Linked DNA regions of Homo sapiens: region 1 is linked to region 2. The links come from fine-mapping of genetic effects on gene expression. A gene starts in region 2. The other region holds a variant in brackets. All regions are shown on one strand. Distances are from middle to middle. Region 1 overlaps GPC5 (glypican 5). Region 2 holds the start of GPC6 (glypican 6).

Region 1 (11,549 bases), 520 kb after region 2:
TTAAAATATATGTACTGAACATGACCATGTTCATGATAATGCCTTCATTCCATCTTTGGAAATGCTCTATTCCTTACCTTGCTCACAAACTTCCATAACTAATTAGAGTCTGAGGTGGTGTCTCCTTGCAATAATTGGTCATCTTTGCCCATGAAGTTTTGAGATCTGGGATCTGATTGTCATTTCTTTGCTCATGGTCTCTGCCAAAAATCTAATTCAATTAACAACTCAGGTAAAGGACCAGAAATCCAAACCAAGCCAAAAGCCTTCCAATCACTTTGCAACTTATATGAGATCTTGCCTCTGGCTACAAAAAGTTTATTTTTTTCCAAGCAGATATACTGTATATTTTGTAGGATTGTAGCCTAAGCTGAGAAGGATTAAAGGTGTTTTCATTACAACCTGGCTGGTCTTTCCTTGGAAAAGGGAGTCTAGCTCTTAGTACACATGCATTTTTTTTTTTAAAGAAGAGCTTTCATTTGTGTTTCTCTCACTATGATTACATGGGAACACTGGCTGAGTTTCTCAATTAAACTTAGTAACATGCTTTTTCCTACACTGATACATAGCAAATCTGTGCTATTCAGTGAGCCTTTCTTGCTACTTTTGTCCTGTTGGCCATCAGGCTAGTCAAGGGCCGTTGGAAACAAAACAACAAGCAGAGGAAATAGATTCTGACTAATAAGTATAGGCTCAAAAGGTGAGTCTGCATCATACGAGAGGCACAGGTGGACAGTCAGGGTGCATTTCTTCTCTGTTAGGTTCAGCTTTCATTATCCACTTCTAAAAGACTTCTATTTGTGTCTTGGGCTTTGGTCAATGGAATGTACAAATATGAATTTGTAGCATGGTAGTAGAATAAGGAGACTGAATGTACATATGGGTCAATTCAGTTTGCTATAATGAAATAAAATAGACTGGGTGGCTTGAACAGCAGCCATGTATGTCATATAGTTCTGGAGGCTGCTTGAACAGCAGCCATGTATGTCATATAGTTCTGGAGGCTGGAAATCCAAGATTAGGGTGCCACCATGGTCAGGTTATTGGTGAGGGTCTTCTTCCTGGCCGTGTCCTTCTCATGGCCTTTCCTTGGTGTGTACATGCAGAGAAAGAGATCTCACATATTTTCATCTTTTTATAAGGGCATTATCCCAATCATGGGAGCCCCACCCCTAGAATTACATCTAATCCTAATTACCTGTGAAGGGCTCCACCTCTAAGAAACATCACATTAGGAATTAGGATTTCAACATACGAATTTTGCAGGGACACAAACATTCATTCTGTAACATTGAAACACAAATCACTTTAAGTATGTACAGTTCAATTAAATAGATTTGTAATAGGCTATGTGAATGCTTCAATTTGTCTTGATAAGTTAGTTAGTTAGCGGAAAATATTAGAGTGTTCCATTACCAGGGGAGGCTAATATCATCCTGGAAGTAGAGGACATTTCAACTCTCTTGACTAGAATATACAGGAGCAGGCAGAGTAAGGGCTGTCAAAAGACCATTTGATGGCTAAGGGCAGTAAGACGAAAAATCATATTTGGACAAAGTAGAATCTAACTGTGGGAGCTGGCTCTATACTTCTTTGAAGGCTTTGTTTCACCTTCATTTTCCAACACTAGTGCTATCTTATGGAAACTTTTTTTCTGGTGGAAAATTCTCCCATTTGCCAGTCAACAACATACTTCCAGCCAGATGATCAGACCAATATATTTTAATAGCATTCTAGATATAATCACACATAAGGTAGAATGAAAATGAAGTTAAGCCTTATTTGTATTAAATTCATATAAAATTTGAATTATAACTTTTAATTTCTGGATTATGCATAACTGATTACGTATGACATTTTGAAAATGGTTCCCTACAAACATGGCAAATGAATCAATTGTACAATAAAGGAAAAGAGATATTAAAGGAATTTTTTTCTGTTCATTTAATTGTATATTATTTATTATATTAATATTTGTTGATGGACTACTTCTAGGCTGGGTACCTCAACAGAGTCTTTCTTTTTGTGACACAGGCTGGAGTGCAGGGCACAATAATGGTTGACTGCAGCCTCAACCTCCAGGGCTCAAGGGATCCTTCCACCTCAGCCTCCCCAGTAGTTGGGATTACACAGGTATGCCACAACACCAAGCAATTTTTTTTTTTTTTTTGGTGGAGATGAGGTCTTGTTCTATTGCCCAGACTGGTATTAAACTCCTCAGCTCAACCAATCCTCCTGCCTCAGCTTCTCAAATTGCTGGGACTACAGGTGTGAGCCACTGTGCCCAGCCCTTTATTGCCTTTTAAAAGCTTGCAAACTCACTGTTTAATACTATTTAGTAAGAGAAAGATAGAAGTTTAAAAAATAACTTTATACATTGCTTTCCAACATAGACGTATTGTGAGCCAGGAATGCAAGTCACATATATAATTTTAAATTTTTGAAAAGCAACATTAAAAAGGAAAACATGTAGTTGAGATTAATTATGACATTATGTATTTATTTCACCCAATATTTACAAAAATTATTTCAAGATAGAAAGAAATTATTGATGAGATTTTTACATTCTTATTTTTTCTATATTATGTCTTTAAATTCTGCTGTATACTTTACACTTACAGTATATCTCAATATGGAATAGCTACATTTCATTGCTTTTATAGCCATATGTAGCTAGGTGCTTCTGTAGTAGACATTGCCCTATAAAAACTTACTCAGAATAAAATTCATATTCTATTTAGTCTTGGTAAACTGCATAATAACCTGTCTTGACAAAAACGAAGTAAAATGAATTGTCAATAGAAATCAAAGTTGGAATATAGAACCTCACTAGAAATAATAAATTATTTACCTTACTACACTAAATTCAAAACTTATTTGAATGAATAGCTAAATAAAAATTCCTCGAAGTTAGTTTTAAATTATTAGGTGGAGCTTGTTGGCAAGACAAAAAAATGACCACTAGAGATATGTCACTTAATTTCACATGCTTTCAATTTAATCAGAGTAACACAATCACTAAACTTTTTGCCATAATATTAATTCTAGTACATCCATATTTGCAGTCCCATGAGCACTGTTCTTAACAAAGACCCTACACATCGAGATCATTAAAGATCTTACTTAGAACATAGTATTTAGACACATACATGTATTCAAGTATATATATATCCATATAAGTGTATATATATATACTCATATATATACACACATTGAGTATATATATATACACTCATATATTTACACACTAAGAGTGTGTGTGTATATATATGTAAGTATATATATGTGTGTGTGTATATGTATATATATATACTCTTAAGCAAAATATTCAAATATACAGAACTCTTATTATCTGCATATGCCCGATGATGCAAAATTGACTTCTTAGTATTAAAAAATGCATAGGTAAATTCTTCCATAAGTGGATTTCCTCCTTTTTTCTTAAACCAAAGGACAATAACCAATAGGTCATCATTTGTAATATTTCACATATTAGTGGTTTTGTGAGTTTAAGAAAGAAATCATATATAAAGAATAATTTAATTTGATGAATTTTGAAATCCCGTATTCTTGAAAGGATTTTGCTTCTGATAATTTTCCAATTGGGAAAATCATCTTCAAAAGGGTTTGGCTAAAAGCCTAGAGATAAATAGGCTTTTAATAAACATAATTTTCCTTTTTAATTGTTTTGGTTGGAGAATGAGAAAACTTTATTCTGCATTAGTAGTCAATATTTGTTCATGGAAATTCTCTCATATTGCCATTCAACTTCAGCATTCACAGTGGTCTAAGCAGCACTTCATAATACCAAACTTAACTGTGGCTGCAATTTTTTATTAATTTTTATGTTTGTTGCATTGGAGAGAAAGGGTTATTTTTGAAACATAAAAGCTTAGGAAAGATTTTACAAATTGGAATTTAAGCAAAGCATTGTTCTCTTGGTTTACTCCAACAATTTAAGGGTAATTAGAAATGTAAACTTCCAACGCCAATGAGAGAAATGACTTCAGTGTGTCATCCAGCCAGAATTACTTGCATAGTCCAAGTTAACATATTTTATTTCCAATGAGGATAATATTAGAATACAATTTTATCCAGAATTATGATGGAAACATTTTATTTCTTTCATGGAACAACGGTATTTAACAAAATAATGGGTAAAGAATAAACTAGGATCTCTAAAGCTCTGAAAAATCTATTAAATATTAAATGAATTCCCATGTGTGTAAAATTTTAGGTGATTTGCTCATTTCTTTATTTACAAATCGATATTCCCAGGACTATATTTAAACTTACTGAACAGAACACTAGTTAATTAAAATCTACATTTTAGATTTGTATACCCTTCCCCCAATTAACAGTAACATGCTGCTCAATGTTGTGAATAAAATATATCTAAAATATTTATATTCTTTATGAATAAATATAAATTTTTAAATAAACTTATAACATCTTATAAATATAAAAAAATTATACATCAATTTTAATAATTCTTAATAAATTATTTATAATGAATTTATATAATATTAACCCTTTTCTATACTGAAAAATTTTATCAGGTAATTAAAATAAATGGTTTACAGATTCAAAGAGTTCTATATGACAAATAAAGACAAAAAACCCTAGACTTTCAAAAGGCAGATATAATATTGCTTTTCCAGAGAGGTGTTTATCTCCCTATTTCTAAATAAAGTACTTATATAATTATTTCTGAATTTCTAGTATTAGATATTATCTATCATATCTCCTACAGTTAAGGATAAAGATTGAGCTCTCCTATTCCTTAGCCCAGCCCCCCAAGGGACACATGTACATATTCTTCCCTATTCTCTATTTTTAATTAATTTATTCTTTTGAAAACAGTCCCTATTGCATGTCAGGTATTATTGTGAGTTCTGGTAATTGATAAAAGTCCCTGTGCTCATGGAGCTTACATATTATTGGAGGAAGGTAGAAATAAATAACTACATTACATAGTGCATTCGAAGGTGGTAAGTGCTACTAAAATAAATAAATAAATAAATAAATAAATAAATAAATATATATATATGCCAGGTATAGGGATGAGGAGTATAAGGGTGGGGGAAGAATTGAATTTTAAAATAGGTAGGTCTCTCTGAACAATTCCCATCTGAGCTTTAGAGGCAGGTCAAGCAGCCAGTGTGAATATCTGAAGTGGAATATGCCGGGTTGGGGGAGCCAAGGAGACCAGTGGTGCTGGAGCAAAATGAACAAGGGGGAAGTCATGGAGGGAGGAGGGAGTGGAGATCACATAGAGTTACATATGCAAGACACCGATTAGCTTTTTCTCTGAATGAGATGGAGAGCCATTGGAGTTTTGAGCAGAAAAGTGACATGCATTCACAAAAATAACTGTGGCTGCCCTGTTGTGAATAGGCGATGATGGACCGAAGTATAAGAACCATTAGGACACTGTTGCAATAACCCAGAAGAGAAAATGGGGGCTTGGGCTGGGGAGGTAGCTGGAGAGGTGATGAAAAATGACTGGATACTGGAAACATTTTGAGATAGAATCGAGAGGATTTCCTTATGGATTTCTATTGCTTCTGACGGATCATGGGGTAACTCAAGGATTCATCCAAGATTTTTGGCCAGAATATCAAGAAGAACAGAATTATTACTTAGTTTGAAAGGAAGGTGAATAAAGCAGAGCTTTGGGGAGGGGGCAAGAGGAGAAGAAAAGAATTCACTTTGGAAATTTAAGATGCTGTTTAGACATTCTGGGTAGAGATGTTTGAATAAAGATTTGGATAGACCAATCAAGAATTCAGAGACATAGAGCTATATCATCAGCATGCATATGGATTTAAAGCCACACACTGGAAAAGATCATTCAGGATGTGAGTGTAGAGAGAACATAAGATACTTGTGGATGAAACTCTATGGATTTTCATTGTTAAAAGTTTAAATAAAAGGGCAGAATATAGCAAAGGAGGTAACTAAGGACCATGCCACTGTGAGGCAGGAGGATCAGTGCTTGGTATTCTGCAAGCTACTCTCCCTTCCATTCAGTTCCTCTGGAGAGTGCACGTCCCATCTCCTATAACAGGGGAGAAAAGTAGTTACCTACATCTTTGAAATGACAGGGGTTTCTGGAAGAGCTTATCATTTAAGTCCTATCCTGTCCCCTGACATTTAAAATGCATGTGAGGCCTTTATTTCCTGATCTTTTCTGAGTTCAGAGACTGGAATTAGCTTTTATTTTCCCTAGTATTTCTTCCCAGAATGAATTC[C/A]ATTTTTAGATGTCTCTGGTATGCCAAGTCATTTATCACTTTTTCATCTATTCGCCAACGATTCTAAAATAGATTGCTAGAATGTGGATTATGAGATAAAGGAATATGAAGAAACTTGTGATTTGTGAAATATACAAGAAATGGCCTCTATAGATATTGCACTAAAGAGAATTTCTTCTTCCTTTCTTACAGTTATTCCACTGATTGAAATCTGTGATACTTAATAGCTCTTATGTCTAATCATATCAATATGCAGCTGGATTGATACACTCCTGCAGGTGGTTGGGGCTCCTTCACTGCCATGTATGTCCCTTTTGTTGCAGATATTTCAAGATTCAGCATCATTTCAGACCCTGAAAAATCCCTGAAAATTGAATTCTCAATAGATAATGCAACTCCACATAATATCTGGATTTTGTAAATGCTTGCTAATAAATTATTTTACAACGTGGGTGAGTTTAGGTGTGTAGGTGATTTCCACACATTGAGAGCCAAAACATCAAATTTTAATGTTGGTCTGGTGAAAGAGACATAATATTTGATGGTTCATGAAGAATACTACAACATAATAAGCATTTTAGATCCAGGGTTATTTCTTTGTATGACTTATTTCCTTTTATGGCCATCAATCCAAATTTTAAAAATAATTTTTTAATATATTTAAGATGTTGTCATGTGTCCTAAAATGACAAAAATAAATTAGACACATGTTTAATCATCATTCCAGTTTGGTTTATTCACTCATATTTTATTGCATAAAACAAGTCAAATTATTTAGCATGATGTCAAAGTCTTAAGTGTAAACCTCTTGGGGGAAACAGCAAAGAATTGGGAAGAATATTACAGTCTATCATGTGAATTTCATCACCACAATCAGAAACTAACACAAAACCCAGAAGAAACCCTAAGAAAGATACCTGTAACCTGAAGAAGATGTAGACTAGATGCCAAAGACAGAGAATGATCTGAATGGAAAATTTTGCAGCTAAACTATTTTCCCTTTTTTGTATGTATCAGGGCAAAACAGTGCCTAATTTTCTCCTCATTTTCTATCATGAGGCAAGAAAACACATCTGTCAAATGTGGCAGGGTAACCTCAGAGAAAAGCTGGAGACAAGCTATGGTCATAAATGTATGCTAAATAGATGGTTCAACATAAGAAAATGTAACAAGTTAATTCAACACATTCATAGACTTGACTTCAAGAGAAAATTTAGGCAGCATTGCAATAGAAGCAGAAACACATTTGAAAAAGTCCAGTATTTATTTGTTAAAAACTCATACCAAATTGTAAAGAACATTGATGCTATGAAGAAACTGCATCAACTAGTGGGCAAAATAATCAGCTAGGCTTCATAATGGCAGGATTAAATGCATACCTAACACTATTAACCTTAAATGTAAATGGGCTAATTGCCCCAATTAAAAGACACAGACTGGCAAATTGAATAAAGAATCAAGACCCATCAGAGTGCTGTATGCAGGAGACCCATCTCATGTGCAAAGACACACATAGGCTCAAAATAAAGGGATGGAGGAATATTTACCAAGCAAATGGAAAGCCAAAAAAAAAAAAAAAAAAAATGCAGGGGTTGCAATCCCAGTCTCTGATAAAACAGACTTCAAACCAACAAAGTTCAAAAGAGACAAATAAGGGCATTACATAATGGTAAAGAGATCAATGCAACAAGAAGAATTAACTATCCAAAATATATGCACCCAATACAAGAGCACCCAGATTCATAAAGCAAGTTCTTAGAAACCTACAAAGATACTTAGACTCCCACACAATAATAGTGGGAGACTTTAAGACACCACTGTCAATATTAGACAGATCAACAAGTCAGAATATTAACAAGGATATCCAGGATTTGAACTCATCTCTGGAACAAGTGGACCTAATAGACATCTACAGATCTCTCCACTCCAAATCAACAGAATATACATTCTTCTCAGCACCACACTGCACTTATTCTAAAGTTGACCACATCATTGGAAGTAAAACACTTCTCAGCAAATGCAAAAGAACGGAAATCATAACAAACTGTCTATCAGACCACAGTGCAATCAAATTAGAACTCAGGATTAAGAAACTCACTCAAAATTGCACAACTACATGGAAACTGAACAACCTGCTCCTGAATGACTACTGGGAAAATAACGAAATGAAGGCAGAAATAAAGATGTTCTTTGAGACCAACAAGAACAAAGACACAACGTACCACAATCTTTGGGACACATTTAAAGCAGTATGTAGAGGGAAATTTATAGTACTAAATGCCCACAAGAGAAAGCAGGAAAGATCTAAAATCGCCACCCTAACATCACATTTAAAAGAACTAGAGAAGCAGGAACAAACAAATTCAAAAGCTAGCAGAAGTCAAGAAATAAGTAAGATCAGAACAGAACTGAAAGAGAGAGAGACACAAAAAACCCTTCAAAAACTCAATGAATCCAGGAACAGGATTTCTGAAAAGATCAACACAATTGATAGACCACTAGCCAGACTTATAAAGAAGAAAAGATAGAAGAATCTAATAGATGGAATAAAAAATGATAAAGGGGATATCAACACCAATCCAACAGAAATAAAAACTAGCATCATAGAATACTATAAACACTTCTATGCAAATAAACTAGAAAATCTAGAAGAAATGGATAAGTTCCTGGACATATACACCCTCCCAAGACTAAACCAGGAAGAAGTCGAATCCCTGAATAGACCAGTAACAAGTTCTGAAATTGAGGCAGCAATTAATAGCCTACCAACCAAAAAAAAAGTCTAGGACCAGACGGATTCACAGCCAAATGCTACCAGAGGTACAAAAACGAGCTGGTACCATTTCTTCTGAAACTATTCTAAACAACAGCTATCCCTAACTCATTTGATGAGACCAGCATCATCCTGATACCAAAACCTGGCAGAGACACAATAAAAAAGAAAATCAAAACCACAATGAGATACTATCTCACACCAGTTAGAATGGCGATCATTAAAAAGTCAGGAAACAACAGGTGCTGGAGAGGATGTGGAGAAACAGGAACACTTTTACACTGTTGGTGGGACTGTAAACTAGTTCAACCATTGTGGAAGTCGGTGTGGTGCTTCCTCAGGGATCTAGAACTAGAAATACCATTTGACCCAGCAATCCCATTACTGGGTATAAACCCAAAGGATTATAAATCATGCTGCTATAAAGACACATGCACACATATGTTTATTGCGGCACTGTTCACAATAGCAAAGACTTGGAACCAACCCGAATGTTCAAAATGATAGACTGGATTAAGAAAATGTGGCACATATACATCATGGAATACTATGCAGCCATAAAAAATGATGAGTTCATGTCCTTTGTAGGGACATGGATGAAGCTGGAAACCATCATTCTCAGCAAACTATCGCAAGGACAAAAAACCAAACACTGCATGTTCTCACTCATAGGTGGGAATTGAACAATGAGAACACATGGACACAGGAAGGGGAACATCACACACCAGTGCCTGTTGTGGGGTGGGGAGAGAGGGGCGGGATAGCATTAGGAGATACACCTAATGTTAAATGTTGAGTTAATGGGTGCAGCACACCAACATGGCACATGTATACATATGTAACTAACGTGCACGTTGTGCACATGTACCCTAAATCTTAAAGTATAATTAAAAAAAAAGAAAAAAAGAAAATTTCAGGCCAATATCCCTGATGAACATCGATGTGAAAGTCCTCAATAAAATACTGGCAAGCCAATTCCAGCAGCACATCAAAAAGCTTATCCACCATGATCAAGTCAGCTTCGTCCCTGGGATGCAAGACTGGTTCAACATACACAAATCAATAAACGTAATCCATCATCACATAAACAGAACCAGTGACAAAAACCACATGATTATCTCAATAGATACAGTAAAGGCCTTAGACAAAATTCAACAGCCTTTCATGCTAAAAACTCTCAATAAACTAGGTATTGATGGAATGTCTCTCAAAATAATAAGAGCTATTTATGACAAACCCACATCCAGTATCATACTGAATGGGCAAAAACTGGAAGCATTCCCTTTGAAAACTGGCACAAGACAAGGATGCCCTCTCTCACCACTCCTATTCAACATAGTGTTGGAAGCTCTGGCCAGGGCAATCAGGTAAGAGAAATAAATAAAGGGTATTCAAATTAGGAAAAGAGGAACTCAAATTGTCTCTGTTTGCAGATGACATGATTGTATATTTAGAAAACCCTTTCGTCTCAGCCCAAAATCTCCTTAAGCTGATAAACAACTTCAGCAAAGTCTCAGGATAGACAATCAATGTGCAAAAATCACAAGCATTCCTATACACTAAGAGCAGACAAATAGCCAAGTCATGAGTGAAATCCCATTAACAATTGCTAAAAAGAGAATAAAATACCTAGGAATACAATTTACAAGGGTTGTGAAGTACCTCTTCAAGGAGAACTACAAACCACTGCACAAGGAAATAAGAGAGGACACAGATAAATGGAAAAACATTCCGTGCTCATGGATAGGAAGAATCAATATCGTGAAAATGGCTGTACTGCCCAAATTAATTTATAGATTCAATGCTATCCCCATCAAACTACCATTGACTTTCTTCACAGAATTGGAAAAAATTACTTTAAATTTCATATGGAACCAAAAAAGAGCCCACATAGCCAAGACAACCCTAAGCAAAAAGAACAAAGCTGGAGGCATCACGCTACCTGACTTCAAACTATGCTACAAGGCTACAGTAACCAAAACAGCATGGTACTGCTACCAAAACAGATATATAGACCAATGGAACAGAACAGAGGCCTCAGAAATCATGCCACACATCTACAACCATCAGATCTTTGACAAACTTGACAAAAACAAGCAATGGGGAAAGGATTCCCTATTTAATAAATGGTGTTGGGAAAACTGGCTAGCCATATGCAGAAAGCTGAAACTGGATCCCTTCCTTATGCCTCATACAGAAATTGACTCAAGATGGATTGAAGACTTAAACATAAGACCTAAAACCATAAAAACCCCAGAATAAAACATAGGCAATACCATTCAAGATGTAGGCATGGGCAAAGACTTCATGACTAAAACACCAAAAGCAAGGGCAACAAAAGCCAAAATTGATAAATGGGATCTTATTACACTGAAGAGCTTCTTCACAGCAAAAGAAACTTTCATCAGAATGAACAGGCAACCTACAGAATGGGAGAAAATTTTTGCAATCTATCCAACTGACAAAGGGCTAATATCCAGGATCTACAAATAACTTACACAAATTTACAAGAAAAAAACAAA
Region 2 (11,549 bases):
CTACTCAATAATTTTGTGTTTTATAAGTGTTCGTAAATTTCATCCATAATTTTAAAAGAACACTAGTCACTTTCTTACATAATTTATGGCACAATCTTTATGCCATAATACTTAAAGAACATAATGCTGTACATTTTAAATCAATTTTGACAGTGGCCTATATTTCTACTCACAAGCTATTATTAAGATACAATGCAGTTGAGAGATATTTTATGTAAAAAAGTATATCAGTCAACTCAAATGAACTCTTGTTCCCAATGATGACATATTATCCTCTAATTAAATCAGCTAAGATAACTCACAATCGCTCTAAAATTAATGCCCAAATCAAGAGTTTAACAAGTGACGCTTCTAATAGCCCAACTTTTAGATTGCTTTGATACCTGGAATTAATGTGATTCTTTTAGAAATCTAGTGACTTGTAGAATCATTACAAAAACAAAAATTGAAGTTCACCTCACTCATTTGTGACTTACACTGTCCTTCCAAAAACTTTTAAAGAAATCAGCTAACTAAACAGGGGGCAAAGAAATAAGAAATCTTTGAACCAGGCAGATAAACAGAAATTAAACAATTTATCTCAAACTACGATATTTACTGTGGCTTTAAAGAGTAAGAGTTACCAAACACTGTTTTCCATTTAAGTTAATGTGATATCTCCATGGAAACTGGAAAAAAAAAAAAAAGTTGTGTAAATTGTAAATGTATTAAATTAGTTGGTTTGCCGGGGGAGCAGACAGAAAGACAGGTTTCCAGAGAAAGGAAACGCCCACTGGGCAAAGATCAGTGAAAAGGAAACATTATGTATTTTGAAACAAGCAAATAATCTTTTTAAACTGTAGATTTTTAGATAAATACTTGATAAATTAATATCAAATAGATGAAGACTTTAGTGCTTTTTTAATATCCAGCTGTAACCCAACTCTCAAAATACCTGGGACAGAAAAAGTTGCAAAATAAATACTGAAAACAGAGCTAGTTACATTTTTTTTTCTAATCTGTGGAGATAAATGTTCTTACTCCCTCTAGCCCCATGAATAACTTTCCAGCATGAGCTTTGTTGGACTAACCCAATATTTCAATAGGCCTAGTATACTGAAAGAAACCAAGACATGTACTTTAGTTTCTGTGTTTTATGTAACTATATCTTGCCAGAAAACGTTCAGAAAAAGGCATAAACGCATGAACCATTTAATGGTGGTAGCATGGCCAATTCCTGAGAATACAAAATCCAAAGTCAAAGTGATATTGAGAATTAGAGACGTTGGAACAAAATAGAAACGTATTTAGCATGCAAAACTGGAAGGGATACATATATGTATATAGTGATTAATAATACCAGACTATATATATATATATACGTATATATATATATATATATATATATACATATATATATATATATGTATATATATATATATATACGTATATATATATATGTATATATATATATACGTATATATATATATATGAAATGAGGAAAGAATAGATTTTGCATGCATTCATTCAAAATAAATGGTGAATGTTTAATACTGTAAGGCAGTGAGCCAAGTTAGGTATATAGACCCTGGAGTCAGAGTGCCTGGGTTTGAACTGCAGCCTCATTACTTACTAGTAGAGTCACCCTTAGGTAAGTTTATTAAAGTTCCTGTCACACAGCCTTTTTATCTATAAAATGGGGTTAATGTGTAGTATCTACTAAGTTATTGGAAGAATTCAGTAAGGTGATATTATAAAGGTAATAATTTTTAAGTAGGTGATGGGCACATAGTAAATTCTATATAAGAGATTGTTAAATAATGTCACATTACATAAGTAATGAAAACATGATCATGTAGGCCAATAAGTCACTGTTAACTACAAAGTGTTATAATTAATGATCCTAGCAAGACTCAAGGCATAAAACAGTGGCAGAGTAAGCCTGAAACAACATTCTCTGAATTTCCCAGAGTTTTAAGCAGGTGCTATTTTCAGTGGTAGAGTTCCTTTAGAAGTTTAGAGCCACCAACATGAGGAGGATTGGAAACTTAGGTCATAATTCTGATGAATGAGGAAAGACTAGAATGTTTCACACTGACCTTTGATGAGAGTAACTCTCCTAACAAAGAACCTGATGATTCACTGCTCAGTATCTTCCCAGAGGATAGAACAAGAAAAAATAAGCAAGCATATTGTGAAGGCTTTTGGCTAGATATCTGGAAACATTTCTATACCACAAGAATTGCTAAATATTAGAATGGATTGCTGAAAGGGGATCAAGAGTCTACTCCTTTGGAAGTTTTTCAAACAAGGATAAATAGTCTATCTGATCTCCTTGCCATGGTTTAAAATCAGTGCTGAGTGAAAACTGATGGTGCAAACTGCCCCTTGAAGGCCTCCTCCTTCCCAAGCATTCTCTGAAAGCATAACTTTATATATTACCTGTGATACTTCCTCATCTGTTGGGTTTCCATTCTATCCTAGAATAGAAAAGGGCAACACTATTTCACAATTGTGAGTTCTGAGTAAAACTTTGATAATGTCATGATGAAACATAATGTCCTTATTACTTCTCAAGTTATTTCACTAAGCAAGCTACCTGCAAATAGCTTTCAATTAGAAACAGCTGTCATGAATCTGAAGTCTGAACAGCAATTCTTTTAAATTTATGTGCCCTGGCAGATTGAAGACACATGAAATTCTTCAAGCAAACCATTAGATGCCCAATCAAGGCAAAGGATAAAAAAGAGTTTAAGAAAAGATAACCACTTACACTAGATAATTAAATGTAAACAGTATCAAGAACTAGGGAGGAGAGATAGAGTGTGTTCCTGTAACAACAGGGTATATTTCCTAAGTGATTATTAAAACAGCAATAGGTAGCATTAAGTAAAGTTGATTTTGAAAAAACAAGTATATCCTTAAAAAACACAATTATCTTTCAATTCATTATTTTCCTATTAAATGTGCCTCTGACCCTGTGGTGACCTGCATCTTGATTATGTCTACCAGCATCAAAGGACACAAGGCTTAAAGCAAAGTTAACAGTATGCCCTTACTCATGGAAAGTAGGTGAGTTTAAAAAAAAAAAAGTGCACACATTTTAGAAATTCATAGCTAATAAGCAAACACTGTAATTGTAAAAAGGTGGGGAGGAAACCAAAAACAAAAACAAAAACCTCTTTAGTTAAATATCCACCGAAGAATTTACATGAACCCCTGGGAATGTTCTCAACAAACATTCATGGTGACTACAGAAATTGTTTTACACTGAAAATCTTCACTTTGATATTAAAGAGATGTGCCTGATGCTGAGGATGAACTCTAGTCTCCTGAGAGTCCCATTATCCTCTAAAGAATACCGAAGCAATTTAAAAATACCTAACTATTTTCTTCTTTGAGACATCTTATCTGAAATCATGTTGGGAAATATCTTGTGTGCTTAAAAGATACCGTTTGAAAAAGCCCAGATTAAAGGAGAAAAAGTTCCTAGAAGAAGTGATCCATACTATAAACCTTTTAAAAAGTTGAATTCCCTGAGATTTGGGGAGGGAAAAAAAAAAGCGAAGCTGATCCTTATCAATTAATTAAAAAGAATGAAATAACAGTAGACAAAGGAGAAGGAGAGTTAAGAAACTTAAGGAGCTGTGGGGACAGTCGCTCTCTATTCATTGATTAACAAATTAAGGAGTTCTGGAAAAGAAGGAAGAAGTAACAAGGATAGAAAAGTAGGCTTATAATTCACCACAGATTCTAACTTAGACTCAGCAAAGGGAATGTCTGGCTCTGAACTGAAAAAGCTCCTTCTATATAATGAGCGTGGTAATTTGCGCCTCTTTTTTTCCCCCTTTGCCAATGCTCAAATTTATTTAAATGTGTTCATTTCAGTGTAAGTAAAAACCCTCACTTCTACAGCTTGAAAATCATAAGAAAATAGTAATTCCTCAACGTATCGAAACTGTGATGTTCTAAGATATCTGCAAAATGCTTTTCATCCATCCACCAGTTATTTGGCAAAAAGCAGACAGAGGCTGGTGGAAATTCAGCGTTTTGACTTGACGATCTGAGGTCACTAAGGACTTCAGCTGCCCGGTTTGAGCAGCCCGCGCCCTCGCAGCATCTCCTGGCCTCCCTCGGCCTCTCTCAGTTCTGTTCTTTAGCAGCCAAAGGATTATCTCTCCCCGACACGTTTCATTCACAGAGCCCCAGAGAAGCTCGGATTCGGTTGGAGCTAAGAGCCGGAAAACAAGCACCCAGACTGCCGCGCAAGTTGTCGGAGACCAAGTGCTACACACACTGGCGCCGAGAGAAAGGGTGGGCGCTCTCAAGCTCTTGGTGGAGCAATGCCAGTGGCCGGGCATGCGGGGGACACGGGGCCCCCGAACCCGGACCCGAATCCCCAGCTGAGCCACCCGCTAAAGTTGGCTGTTCGCTGGCAGACGAGGCCGGCTCCAGACCGGGTGGCAGGGTGTCCCCGGGCCCTGAGTGGCCAACAGCAACTGGGGAAGCACTGAGGAACCCTAACGGGAAAGCCCGCCCCACATCTGAAACAGGCAGCCCGTGAAGTCCCCAAACCAGCCTTGAAACGCCGGCGTCCAGAGGCCAGGTCCCCGGCGAGGGTCCCTCCCAGCCTTGCCCGCCCCCGGCCCGAGCGCCGGGCGCTCTGTCGCCCGAAGGACGGATAGGGGAGAGAGGGGCTGGGGGAGCCCTCCGCGTCTCTCCACCGCCCCTGCCGGCGCAAGGGCGGGAGTGGAGAAGGCGCCACTCAGACTGTGGCGCTGGGCAAACTGCGGTCGCAGTTCTTCCAAGTTTGCCCGAACCAGAACGCGGAGTGAGCGCCCGGCTCGGCTCTCCGTCTGCGCCTTGCAGCCGCCCCGGAGTGACCCGGGCTCCCTGGCCAGCCGGGCCTGAGCCATCAACTAAGGGGTAGAAGGGCGCGAGAGCAGCGGGAGGCGGGAGCCAGGGTGCTCCCGCGTGTGCACACAATGAGGCGGCGGAGACGCACACCTTCCCCCGCCGAAGAAGCCGCAGGAGCATCCGCCGCCCAACACGGAGACGCGGAGTCCCATAGCGGTGGCAGAAAGTGAGCACCAACTCAGCAACAGGGGGAAGGAAGGGGACGCCGGGCGGCCAGTGGGACGTGCGGCAGCCGAGGGCTGCAGCCTGCCCCTGCAGCGCGCCCGCGCTTACCTGCGATCTCCTGGTAGGGGATGTCCGCCAGGCTGAATCCCTTGGCACCGTACGCCTGGCGGACCTCTCCGCAGCTCCGAGCCTTCACATCCGCCCCGGCGGGGAGGGAGAGCAGCAGCCCCAAGAGGGGAAGAATCACAGCCCCGATCCAAGAAGGCATGGTGCAACATACAAATCCAGCTCGGTAAACCCCACGGCCGGTGCGCTCTTCACCTTGCCCCTCAAGCCGAAAGCCCGCCAGAGGCAGCGGCGCGCTCCTCGCCGCTGCCCAGCGTCACCCCCTTCTGCCAGCCGAGGGGACGAGCAGCGCAGCCCTCTGGACTGCGCTCAGCAAACTTTTATAAGCCAGATGGACGATGGCAAGCCAACAAGGGCTGGCTGGGAAGGCTGCTGCCTTGCTCCTCTAGCCCCCAGATGGAAACGGTGCAATCAAAACGAGGAAGAGAAGGAAAAGAAGTGTTTAAAAAACCACCATGGGGGTTCAGAGCTGCAATCCGAGTTCCGAGCCGCAGAATCCTGGAGCGCTGCGGGCTCGGCTCGCCGGAGTGTGCGGCAAAGGTGGGAGCGCGCGCCGGCTCCCCCGGGAGGGAGATGGACAAGCGAGAGCGAGTGTGTATGCGCGCGTGTGTCTGTTGGTGTGAGCTCGAGGTTCTTGGGGATGTGTGTGCGTGGAGGTATGTGTTGGGGATATACGAGATCTAGGGGAAACCTCAGCTTAACACAGGCTGTGGGAGCCTGTGAGAGTCCTCCTGAAATAGGAAGAGAGAAATCCTGGAGACAGTCACTGGAGGCAAGAGGGAAGGAGAAAGGAGGGGGGAGAAAGAAACGTGCTACACATTGCACAGCCGAAATTCACAGGCCGAGTCAAAGGCAAAACCTGGACTGGATCTCTTCCTAGTCGGTAGAAAGGGGAAAAAAAGAAAAAGAAACGTACCTATTTTCTTATTCACTTCACATCCTTTATACCGATCTGAAATGACATCAATAAACAATCTAGAAAGACAAGGTAATTTTAAGTCATTAACATGTTATTAAGCTGTATTTTTATGGAGGTAAAGGATAACGCAGTTCCAATTGTTGCTCTTAATATGTGTCCCTGACCTACTGAAACACAAAGCCAGAGTGGAAATAGTCATAGACGGGAGTTCATGGGTGGCAGAGCACAATCACGGCTCTAACTAGTTGCCTAATTTCTGTTTGACTTTGTTTTTTTCTAAAGGCACACATTACAGACTGGTAGTTCTTAATTTTTAAAGGTTTGGTTCTAGACTCAACAATTTCCCCTTTTTTTATTTCAAATATCTCATAGCCTTCGATCAGAAATCATTATGCTTAGGTTTCTAATGTGTGGAGGATCGGGAAAGCTAACAACCAGACCACAGAAGCAACAAGAAAAGGAGAGCACAAGGGTCAGAGGTGCATAAAGGGACATAATGGGGGAAGGGAGGTGATTCCTTCCCTCTCACTAGATGCCCTCACATAGTAGACTTAACATTTTCTTCCAAGTTAACATAATTCTCAAGTGGAGAATCAATCCAATTTCTTCTTCCTGTCTCCATTTACACTGATGTTCTGTGAACGGGATAAAAGTGAAAATTCAGGTTTGCCTAATTGACTTTGTTATGCTAATGGACGCACTAAAGTCAGCTGGCAGAAGTGTGTGTTGAAACCCAGAGCTCCTGAAACTACTAAGATAGTTTAATGAAAACCAAGACAAAATAATAATAATAATAGTGTTTATTCACTTACGTGGCTATGTGTCATAGGTCAGCACATTATTCACAAACTACTACAAGGTAATGCACAGTTTTGTGGAGCTCACCTATGAAGCTACACATGAAGATGTTTTCCTGATGATGATATGAATGACCAGAATGACTCATGAAGTTTAAATCTTTGAGTTTGTCATTATCATCACAACATATTAGGTACATTGTCTTCCTCTCTTTAATAAATTCCCCCTCTCCTAACCACCAAAAAGACTCTCAAGATTCAACCTCATTTAACCTTTCCAAACGCTTTAAAAATGAAGTCGACTTATTTACAGAGCCACTTTGTCTTCTTCAAACTCATAGGTCAAGACAAAACAAAACCAAAAAAAAAAAAAACAAAACAAAACAAAAAAAAAAACTCCATAGCTAAATCTTTCTGAAAACGCAACACACTTAACTTTTTTTCTCTTAAAATTTTAGCACAGTTTTTTGCTTTCACAATATTTATGCTAACTGGCAGATCTTAAATCACTGAACTTATTTTCCCTCAAGTCGGAAATCAAGATAAAATATATTCTGGTTATGTTTGTGGACAAACGGTGAGGTTGATAGGCTCAGGAATTGCAGTCAAGTTATTACTTCTGTCATATTTGACAACGTGACTTCCTTCAAACTTCTCTTTGTATCATAGTAAAGCATTATGCACTCCAGAGGAAGAGGGTAAAAACACACACTTCCTGTCCTACCACCTTATCCTGGGACTCATTGTAATTTACCCTGACTCAGTATAGCAGATAATTCATTATTTTAAATGGAGGTAAAGGAAGAATGGGTAAAAGCATAGTATATGTGGTTTTAAATTATTTGAAGATCAGCTAATTGTTAAGTATTGAATGAGCACTCAATACAACTTTATAGCACTAGACTATTGCACACCGTCCCTATACTTATAAAATGATCTTAGGATTTGTGGCAAAGATATTACATGAGACGAATGACTAAATAGATTAGTTTAATTCCATCAGGAGAGTCAAATAGTTTAGGGTAGGTTTGTGAACTCAAGTCAGACCAAAGAATTAGATAACTTGCTTTACTGGTGACCTTAACCCTGCCTGGTCCATTTGTTGAGTAATGTCACACTGTTTGCAGTGGTGTAAGAGACAAAGTCAAACATTCCAGTTAACACTGAGAGCCACAGCAGGAGCCTAGACAAGGGATTGGAATGAGAATGGAATGTTATGGAAGTTCCTGGAAGAGGCCTGACCAGACAGGAGAGAGGTCATATGGAGGAGCAGGCATCTGGTTTAGACAAAAAGGTCAGCTAATGGCTGGAATCCTAGCTGTAGTATTCATCTTGTGTGTAGTAGGAAAAAAGAATATGGATAAATGCCATACAAGAGGAAGCAAACGAGGCCAGGCACGGTGGCTCATGCCTATAATCCCAGCACTTTGGAAGGCCGAGGCAGGCAGATCACCTGAGGTCGGGAGTTTGAGACGAGCTTGACCAACATGGAGAAACCCCGTCTCTACTGAAGATACAAAATTAGCTGGGCGTGCTGGCACGTGCCTGTAATCTCAGCTCCTCGGGAGGTTGAGGCAGGAGAATCACTTGAACCTGGGAGGCAGAGGTTGCGGTGAGGCGAGATCGTGCCATTGCACTCCAGACTGGGCAACAAGAAAGAAACTCCGTCTCAAAAAAAAAAAAAAGGCCGGGCGCGGTGGCTCACGCCTGTAATCCCAGCACTTTGGGAGGCCGAGGCGGGCAGATCACGAGGTCAGGAGATCGAGACTATCCTGGCTAACACGGTGAAACCCCGTCTCTACTAAAAATACAAAAAATTAGACGGGTGTGGTGGCCGGCACTGCAGTCCCAGCTACTCAGGAGGCTGAGGCAGGAGAATGGCGAGAACCCGGGAGGCGGAGCTTGCAGTGAGCCGAGATCCCGCCACTGCACCCCAGCCTGGGTGACAGAGGGAGACTCCGTCTCAAAAAAAAAAAAAAAAAAAAAGCAAACAAATAGCATGAGGTAAACGGATACCTAGAATAGGACGATGGAAAATGGAAAGATGTAGATAGATTCTGAGGAAAGGATTGGCAGGAGTTGGTGCTTGGTTCAATACACAAGAAGAATTACTAAATATTTATTTTAAGATTGTGTCTCTGCTGGGTGTGGTGGCTCACGCCTGTAATCCTACCACTTTGGGACGCTAAGGAGAGTGGCTTGCCTGAGCTTCGGAGTTAGAGACCAGGCTAGCCAACATGGCGAAACCCCTTCTCTACTAAAAATACAAAAAATTCGCTGGTGTGATGGTATGTGCCTGCAGTCCCAGCTACTTGGGAGGCTAAAGCAGGAGAATCCTTTGAACTCTGGAGGTGGAGGTAACAGTGAGCAGAGATCACGCCACTGCACTCCAGCCTGGGAGAAAGAGTGAGACTCTGTCTCAAAAAAAACAAAACAAACAACAACAAAAACAAGACAAAAAAAAGATTGCATCTCATTAGGAAAATATGGTACGTTTAATAAAAGACAATACAACTCCTGTTTATACAGTACTTTCACATCCCAGCTGGTTTTCACAACAACCCGTTTTGGGCATCACATGAATGGAACCTCAGAGACTTTCAGTTGTAGAGAAAAATAGACACAGTCTTGAAGAGCAGCCATAGGTGACAGACGAGTCGTGCAGCCCCTGTCAGTCACATATCCCACAGCCATCGCCCTTTCTTTTTTGCTTCTCTAAGACTGATTATGTCAGGGGGCATTGTGCTCACCACCAAGGGATGAATCACAATTAGCACTTTTCCCTGGTGTAGGGGTGGGTGTAAGACCCATTTCTAGCCAATGTGATTTATGGAGATTTCTGAAAAAAAAAAAAAAAAAAAAAGTGTTTTCCCTGATTAAAGGAGCAGAAGGGCCATTTTGCCTCAGCCTCCTGCCTTCTTAGAGCTACACAGCCATCTTTTGCGTAAGAGACAAGACATTGCTAGAAGACAGACAATGACAATGGAGGGATGCAAAGAACCTTGAGTTCCTATTTGAGTCACCAAACCAGCCTTAGGACTTCCAACTTCTGGACTTCTTGTTAAATAATCAATAAATATCCTGTTGTTTACACCATTGTTAGTTGGTTATTCTACTGTTTACAAGTAAAAGCAACTTAACCTATACACCAAACTCAATGAATAATAAGAAAATTTAAAGGCAAGAGACAGTGAATAGTTGCAAAGGTAAGAAGAGAACAAAAACATTAGGTAGCATCGTGGAACCCAGGTGAGGAGATTTTCAAACATAAAACAAATTGCAGTGGACAAGAAAGAGATGGAGATAATGGTACTTGGACAATGATAAGGAAGCTTACTGGAAATTTTGAGAGAAACATTTTAGTATAGTAAACTGGGTGGATGCTAAACCACATGGAATCGTGTGTGAAGTAGGTGGAAAGAATATGGAAATACCAGGTAAAACTGATTAGAATGTGGTAACTGTATGTGGAAGGGGCAGAGAGGTAGTCAGGAATGCTTTCCAGAAGTTTCTAAAACTTCAGGGAAGAATGAGTGGACATAAAAAGAGAATGAAATCCAATATGATCTTACTGGGTTGGTTGATTTTAAATTTTTTTTCTCTTATCTGCATTTTTCATGTTTTCTACAGTAAAGATGAGTCCTTGGTTATGAGACAAAAAATATTGTTTTGACATGAATATGTCACACGTTTAACATAAATACAAATTATAGCATTTGGTTCATGTTTTACAAAATAAAAAGGTCTTACCCTATCTCATGTAAGTAAAACAATTGGCTGTTAATATGTTTCTGAATCAAATAATAACTCTGAAGTATGAAATGTCTTGTGTTAATTTTTTAAAAGCCTTGGGTTTATAAAAAAAATAAAAAGCAGAGCTACAGCAGAATTTATCATCCTTTTGCTCAGTTATAAAAATCATGAATGAAAATAATAGGTGAATTTTAGTTTTTTCTTAGTATTTTTTAGATCAAAGTAGGACAAATAACTTCAAATAAAATCTTAGGAAAACAGGAGAATGGACTTCAAGTGTCTATTCCACATCTCAGCTTGGCACAAATCAAAATCGCTTAGTTAACCTGCCTCTTGAAAAACAGGGCCTGTAATGAAAAAGCTGTCAGAAATTTAACAACAGTAGCTCTGCCAGGTGCCTGGATAATGGGAAGGTTGCTGAGTTACAGAGAAAGAAAAGGTAAACCTGGGTGAATAATGACCAGAAATGGTGAAAATCTTTCATTTCCATCTTATGGTTTATATCCAATGAAATACTAATAGTTCATTTAACATTTATTGAGCCTTAAACATATACCTAGTGCTAATATAAACCAATTAAAATTATATCTTTAGGGCAGCTGAGAACAAACTGGGTTACTAATGATCTCTTGGGGGGAAAACCAAACACCATGGGGCAGCAGATTCTTCTTGTCTTGCAATATTCTTCTAAGACTCTGAAGCCAGAACTGTTTGGCTTCAAGGAAGGGAATCATGTGATCTACTTAATCAGATTTTCTCCTAAAAGTTATGACAGGGTTTATCCAAGAGAATTGAAAGGACTCTAATTATTTAATTATGTTTAGTCTTCATATATGTCAGAAACTTAGACAATAAAAATATTCCATATAATCTTAAGATTTACTCATCGTTAC

The links. PIP is the estimated chance that this variant, and not a neighbour inherited with it, causes the effect.
Region 1: its variant is fine-mapped to the expression of GPC6 in aorta (GTEx, PIP above 0.99). The same link has a PIP of 0.9 or more in lung.

Annotation. Positions count from the first base shown.
Region 1 is chr13:92,696,545-92,708,093 of GRCh38, reverse strand. All of the region lies in intron 7 of GPC5 (glypican 5), which reads right to left. It overlaps GPC5-AS1 (GPC5 antisense RNA 1), which reads left to right. Exons shown (of 4, transcript NR_046520.1): 3 at 2,035-2,133; 4 at 6,578-6,705. Among named protein-coding and RNA genes, the nearest start is that of GPC5-AS1, 19 kb to the left of the region's middle. The variant C/A (reference allele first, on the strand shown) is at 6,255.
Region 2 is chr13:93,221,237-93,232,785 of GRCh38, reverse strand. GPC6 (glypican 6) reads right to left here and starts at 5,979. Exons shown (of 9, transcript NM_005708.5): 1 at 5,170-5,979. The coding sequence starts at 5,329. RefSeq lists silencers at 4,196-4,490, 8,710-8,895 and enhancers at 4,544-5,386, 7,793-8,743.